Homo sapiens: one gene and its partner. The protein of the gene in region 1 purifies or fractionates together with the protein of each later gene. This does not show direct contact. Each region holds a gene or a part of one and is shown in the gene's direction. Other genes may lie near its edges.

Region 1 (3,500 bases):
ATGGCGTGAACCCAGGAGGCGGGGCTTGCAGTGAGCCAAAATCACACCACTGCACTCCAGCCTGGGCGACAGAGCAAGACTCAGTCTCAAAAAAAAAAAAAAAAAAAAAAAAAATTAACTTCTAATTGTGTTGTCACCATGCTGGGAAGTAGACATAGTGACTTAAAGCTGTTGTTCTTAGTCCAGGGACCAGCAAACAACAGTCCAGTGGCCAAATCCATCCTGCTGCCTGTTTTTGCGCAGACCGTGAGCTAAGAATGGTTTTTATATTTTTAGGTAGCTGGTGGTGGGGGGATCAAAAGCAATAATATTTTACAACCTGTAAAAATGATATGAAATTTAGCATCCATAGGTCATTTTCTTGGAACACAGCCACACCCATTCTCTTACATATTATCCATGGCTGCTTTTGCACTGAAAGGGCAGAGCTGAGTAGTCGCTCTAGAGACCATCTGGCCCACAAAGCCAAAAGCTATTTAGTATTCTAGACTGTTTACAAAAAAGGAGTTTGCTGAATTATACATCCATCCCTGTTCACCACAAAGATTTGATCATCTAAGGACTGTTTTGAATGTTCAGGTGCCTACATAAACAGCTCTAGTTGCTTTGAGTCTTTTTATTCAGTGTACTCTTTATTAAAAGTCCTTTTTTTCCCTACATATTTGTGACTCAGAAAGTCAGACCATATGTGCTCCCGCTGTTTTAGCGGGTTTTCTTTGTGGTTTAGTGAACCACAAAGACACTCTTCCTATCTTTCTCCCTATTTTCCCTTTCCTTGGGCTTCTAGTAAGTTTTGTATCTGCTTATGACAAGTTTGCCAGAGATGTTGAGAGACTCATCATTTCCTGAATTCTTCTTTTTATCATCACAGAGAAATGCTGTCCACACACAGCAGCCCTTACAAAACTCTGGAGAGGCGGCCCCAGGGAGGACGAAGCATGCCCACCACGCCAGTTCTTACCCGAAACGCCTACAGCAGCAGCCACTTGGAGTAAGAGAGCTTCTTTCTCATTGCTTTAGCTGTCTTGATTTTTGCTTTGAGGTTCTGTCTTGCTTTATTGTGTTTTTTAATCATTTCAAGTGACTTTCTGTAGCAGGACCTTGTTTTATGGTTTTACATTTTCTGCTAACTTATGGTTTCAAATATGTTGGCAAAGAAAATGTATTTGATTTGTTCAAATATACATTAGATTTTTAGTACCTTAATTTCCCCAGTCACATATTACCATTCATTATTCAATGGTGAGGATGAAGTTAGTAACAATAGCAACATTTTGAAATGTTTGTGAGTGCTGTGCTAAATGTTTTATATTCACTGGATTATTTAGTCCCTACAGCAAGCCTTTTGTGAGGTAGATATTATATATTGTTTTCATCCTCATCTTACAAAGGAGGAAGCAAGATTCAGAGAGGTTAAATATCTGGCCTGAGCTCATACAGCTGGGAAATAGCAGTGCCATGACTCAGCCCAGCCACCTCTGACCTCCACTCGAATGTACCATATCTTCATATCCTCTAGGAAGACAGGACCCTCCAAAGACACGTTGGGTTTTTTGTTTTTGTTTTTGTTTTTTTTTCCAGGCTGTGATGCAAACTGTGCATCCTCAGTCTGTGTCTTTCCCTACCCTCAAGGAAGGATTTGGCTTGCGCAACTAACAGAAGCCAGCTCTTTTCTCATTTTGACCATGGTCAAAATGAACCTACATGTGAGCCAACAGATTTGGAGAACAATGGATTCTATTGTGCAGTCAGCTTTGGCAACTCAAAGTCCTATTGTAATTCACGAGCTATTCAGTCATTCAGCATGCTATTCTTTTTTCTTATTTGGGTCCTCCTTTTCTTCTTGGTGTTGAGAAGTTTGCCTTTCTCCTCTTTCAGACCCGAATCTTCATCTCAGCACTGCCGCCAGCGGAGTGGAAGCCTGGAGTCCCAGTCCCACCTGCTCTCCGAGATGGACAGCGATAAGCCATTTTTCTCCCTCTCCAAATCCCAAAGAAGCAGCAGCACAGAAATCCTCGATGACGGGTCTTCTTATACAAGCCAATCAAGCACAGAGTATTACTGTGTGACACCAGTTACCGGCCCCTATTACACCACCCAGACCCTGGACACTCGCACCAGGGGTCGGAGGAGGTCAAAGAAACAGAATGTTTCTACTTCAAATTCAGGAAGCATGCCCAACCTAGCACAAAAGGATAGTTTGAGGAATGGTGTTTACTCAAAGAGTCAGGAGCCACCGTCTTCCAGTTACTACATTGCCGGGTACACACCCTATGCAGAGTGTGACTTTTATTACAGTGGTGGTTATGTCTATGAGAATGACACCGAGGGACAGTATAGTGTCAACCCTTCCTACCGGTCCTCAGCCCACTATGGATATGAGCGCCAGAGGGACTACAGCAGATCCTTTCACGAAGATGAGGTCGACCGGGTACCCCATAACCCATATGCAACTCTCCGGCTGCCAAGGAAGGCTGCTGCAAAATCGGAGCACATCACCAAAAACATCCACAAGGCCTTAGTTGCCGAGCACTTGCGTGGCTGGTACCAGCGGGCCTCTGGGCAGAAGGATCAGGGACACAGCCCGCAGACCAGCTTTGACTCAGACAGGGGATCACAGAGATGCCTGGGGTTTGCGGGGCTGCAAGTACCTTGTTCTCCAAGCAGTCGTGCATCCTCGTACTCTTCAGGTGAGAATACTGTAAAAACACGCAACACCTGGATTTTATTTACATCGTGTTTCCTGCCCACCTAAAACCGCCTCACGGATCATGAGACCAGTACTCAGGGTCAAAAGTGGGGCAACCATTCGGTGGAACCCCACAATAAGAATTTCCAACTTAAAAACAGTTCTTTCCAGCTCTCCAAAGAACTCAGTACACATGAGTCTAATGAAGCAAATTGTAGATTCAAATCCAGCAAACATTGATTGAGCATTTACTCTCTGTGCTGCCCTGTTTTAGGGTTTTTTTTTGTTTTTTGTTTTTTGTTTTTGAGAAGGAGTCTCACTCTGTCGCCTAGGCTGGGATGTGTTAGGGGTTTCACTTGCTTTGTCTTTTTAGGATTTACGTTGACAGGCACATCTCTTAAATGTGTTCACGTCATTGAGGCTTGATATTTTAAAAGAATAAACCCTCAGGTAAGCAGAAAACATTAGAATTATACATCCCTCCTGGTTCACCACCAAGATTGATCATCTAAGGACTGCTTTGAATGCAAGCCTGGGATTATGCAGGTACTTAGGCAAGTGCCTGCATAAGGCTCGTAAGAATCCTTATAGGAGCTGGCATTGATTAAGCACTGTTCTAAGTAATTTGCTTTTTTTTTTTTTTTTTTTTTTTTGTAGAAACAAGGAGGCTTAGGTTGGGTCTTGCTATGTTGCCCAGGCTGGTCTCAAACTCCTGGCCTCAAGCAACCCTCCTGCCTTGGCCTCCCAAAGTGTTGGGATTACATGTGAGAGCCGCAGTGCCTGGCCATGCATATTGTAATTCAGTATTCAT
Region 2 (3,500 bases), on another chromosome or scaffold:
GACTAAAGCATGAGTACCACCTGGGGTGAGATTCCTAGGTTTAAACCTATGTCTACTGGCCTAGAATTTCTAAGGAAAGGGGCTGAGAATATGTATTTCTAACAAGCAATTTCAGTGATTCTGATGAATAGAAGTTGGGACAAGTTTAAGAACCTGTGCAATAGGTGTTGGATGGTTCATTTTCAAGGCTATTTAAATAGGCTGATAGTCATGTCAGGAGTTAGGATGAAGAGGATGATCAGTAGTGAAAAGATGACATTAATCCCTTACAGGTGGTGAGAGAGCAGTTTTAGGGGATTATGGGGTATGTTAAAGTCAGTGTGATAGAGACTTGAAAGAAAAAGTAATGATGTTGGAGCAGTAAATTGTCTCCTCCTGTCCTATATATAGGGAGTGTATGAAAATGTGCAGTTTTCTGTTTGGCGTAGGCTGCAGCAAGGAAATGAACATAGCCTTCTTTGATGCCATTGAAGTTGTAGGCTCCTTGAAGTTGGTGAAAGGGTTGAGAGGAAAGTCAAAATAGTGGAGTCCATTTCATCTAAAGTCAGAGTAAAACAAAAAGGTTACTTAGAAACCTTGTTTAGTCAGTATATTAGGCAGTGTTCTCTAGGGGGACAGAACTAATAGAATATATATATGAGTTTATTAAGTATTAGCTTACACGATCACAAAGTCCCACAACAGGCTGTCTGCAAGGAGCAAGGAGAGCTAGTCCGAGTCCCAAAACTGAAGAACTTGGAGTCTGATGTTCGAGGGCAGGAAGCATCCAGTACAGGAGAAAGATGTAGGCTGGGAGGCTAGGCCCATCTTTCTTTTTCACATTTTTCTGCCCGCTTTATATTCACTGGCAGCTGATTAGATTGTGCCCACCAGATTAAGGGTGAGTCTGCCTTGCCCAGCCCACTGACTCAAATGTTAATCTCTTGGCAACACCCTCACAGACACACCCAGGATCAATACTTTGTATCCTTCACTCCAATCAAGTTGACACTCGGTATTAACCATCACAGTCAGTTACTTTTGAAAGTTCTCTGATTTTAAAACAAATTGTTTGTTCTGTTAAACATTTGGTAGGATAAGTCAGCTTGTATTTAGGGGCCACATAATGGCATTAAGAATATGTTTCTTTAAACACTAGAATCTTAAGATACCGTAGGGAGATAGATGCCCATAGTATGAGAGCCACATGGAAATAAAAGAAGATTGAAGTCTCCTCTATCTTGTGTTTACTGTGAGATCTATCATTTCTTTAGTTATCATGTGTTCTTGATTATTCTGTGTAATATGATGTGCGTCCTGTAGTGGACATGGTGAGGTGGAGATGGAAATACTAAATGAGAAGAAAGAAGATTAATGACTGAGATGGTACAGGTTTTTAAGAGTACAATTCCATGTAGTTAATTTCATTTACAATGTTATGCAACTATCACCATTATAGATTTTCCACAACTTTTTTTTAGCATTACAAACAGAAACTCTGTACCCATTAGGCAATAACTCTCCACTTTCCTTCCTTCACTCTCTGGTAACTTCTGATACCTTCTGCTTCTATGAATTTGCCTATTCTTGATATTTCATGTAAGTGGAATCATACTTTTCTGTATGTGGCTTATTAGTATGTTTTCAAGGTTCATCTATATTGTAGCACATATTTCTTTTTATTACTGAATAATGTACTGTTGTATTTATAGACCACATTTTGTTTATCCATTCATCTGTTGGTAGATACTTGAATTGTGTCCACCTTTTGCCTAATATTTCCGCAGTGAATATTGGCATACAAGTGTCTGAGAACCTCTTCAATTCTATTGCTATATCCCTGGGAGTGGCATTGCTGTGTTAGCTTTTTGAGGAAGCAACAAATTATTATTCACAGCAGCTACACCCTTTTACCTTCCTACCAGCAGTTTTCAAAGGTCCTATTTTTCTACATCCTCACCAACACTTATTATTTTTCCCTTTAAAAAAGTTGTAGCCTCCTTATAGATGTATCATTGTGATTTTGATTTACATTTCCCTAATTACTAATAATGTTAAGGATCTTTTTGTGTGTTTATTGGCCATTTGTGTATCTTCTTTAAGTTCTTTACTCATTTTTTGCTCACTTTTTAATTGGTTTGTCTTTGTTGTTGAGCTGCAGTTCTTTACATATTCTGGATATTAAACCTTTATCAGATACATGATTTGCCAAGATACTCTCCCATTCTGCAGTTTGTCTTTTTATTTTCTTAACAGTGTCTTTTGATGCACAAAAATTTTAAACTTATATAAAGCCCAATTTATTTCCTATGTTTCTCATGCTTTTGATGTCATATCTAGGAATCCATTGCAAATCTAAGGCCATGAAGATTTGCTCCTGTGTTTTCTATTAAGAGTTTTATGGTTTTATTTCTTATATTTAGGTTATTGATTCATTCTGAGTTAACTTTTATATATAGTATACGGTAGAGGTCCAGCTTAATTATTTTGCATGTGGAAATCCAGTTGTCCCAACAACATTAGTTAGAGGTGCCTGTTTTCCCCCATTGAGTAGACTTGACACCCTTTTGGAAAATCAGTTGGCTATTGATGTATGAGTTTATTTCTGGACTCTCAATTCTATATCATTGGTGTATTTATCTGTCCTATGCCAGCACCAAACTGTCTTGTTACCTTAGCTTTGTAGTAAGTTTTGACATTGGATTTTTCAAGATTGTTTGGGTTACTTAGGGTCCTTTGCAATTCCATATGAATTTGAGGATTGCTTTTCCATTTCTGCAAAAAAGGTTGTTGGAATTGTGATAGGAATTATGTTGAATCTGTAGATCACTTTGGGTAGTATTGTCATTTTAATATGTTAAGTCTTCCAATCCATACATCACTTGTCTATTTACTTAGCTCTTCTTTAATTTCTTTCAGTAATGCTTTATAGTTTTCTGTGTACAAGTCCTTCACCTCCTGGGTTAAGTTGATTCCTGGCTATTTTATTCCCTTAGTTACTTTATGAATGAACTGTTTTCTTGATTTCTTTTTTGGATTGTTGTCTCCTGGTGTATCAGAACACAACTGATTTTTTTGTGTGTCAAACTTGTAACCTGCAACTTTGCTGAATTTGTTTATTAGCTTTCTTGGGGATTCTATGAGATCTTCTATCTAGAGAGAATAGACATAGTTTTACTTCCTCCTTACCCGTCTGTATGCCTTTATCTCTTTTCCCTAATTTGCTCTGCTAGAACTTACAGTCATGTTGAATAGCAGTGGTAAAAGCATGCATCTTGTCTTTAATTTTTCCCACTTTTAAGATAAAGTTTTCCACTGAATTTTTTGAAAGGATTATACATAATTAACTGATTCTCTTGATCTTAATTACTCTTTTTTTCTTTTGCAGCACAAAGAATGAACCAGCAGTGGAAGAGAAAATACTGTAAGCTGGCTGACTGCTGGTGAAGAAAATGCTTTATTTTTGTGGCAGGCATCTGTGGGATCTGTAATAGAAATGTAAGTGTAGCATCATGGTTTTT

The links.
Region 2: the proteins of FRMD4B (region 1) and RNF146 purify together in Homo sapiens (affinity purification with western blotting; one study listed by BioGRID). This does not show direct contact.

Annotation. Positions count from the first base shown.
Region 1 is NC_000003.12:69,180,089-69,183,588, reverse strand, and holds part of FRMD4B (FERM domain-containing protein 4B), read left to right. Parts: intron 1-871; coding exon 872-991; intron 992-1,878; coding exon 1,879-2,690; intron 2,691-3,500. UniProt on the Homo sapiens protein: Member of GRP1 signaling complexes that are acutely recruited to plasma membrane ruffles in response to insulin receptor signaling.
Region 2 is NC_000006.12:127,276,864-127,280,363, forward strand, and holds part of RNF146 (E3 ubiquitin-protein ligase RNF146), read left to right. Parts: intron 1-3,367; 5' UTR 3,368-3,475; coding exon 3,476-3,477; intron 3,478-3,500. UniProt on the Homo sapiens protein: E3 ubiquitin-protein ligase that specifically binds poly-ADP-ribosylated (PARsylated) proteins and mediates their ubiquitination and subsequent degradation. May regulate many important biological processes, such as cell survival and DNA damage response.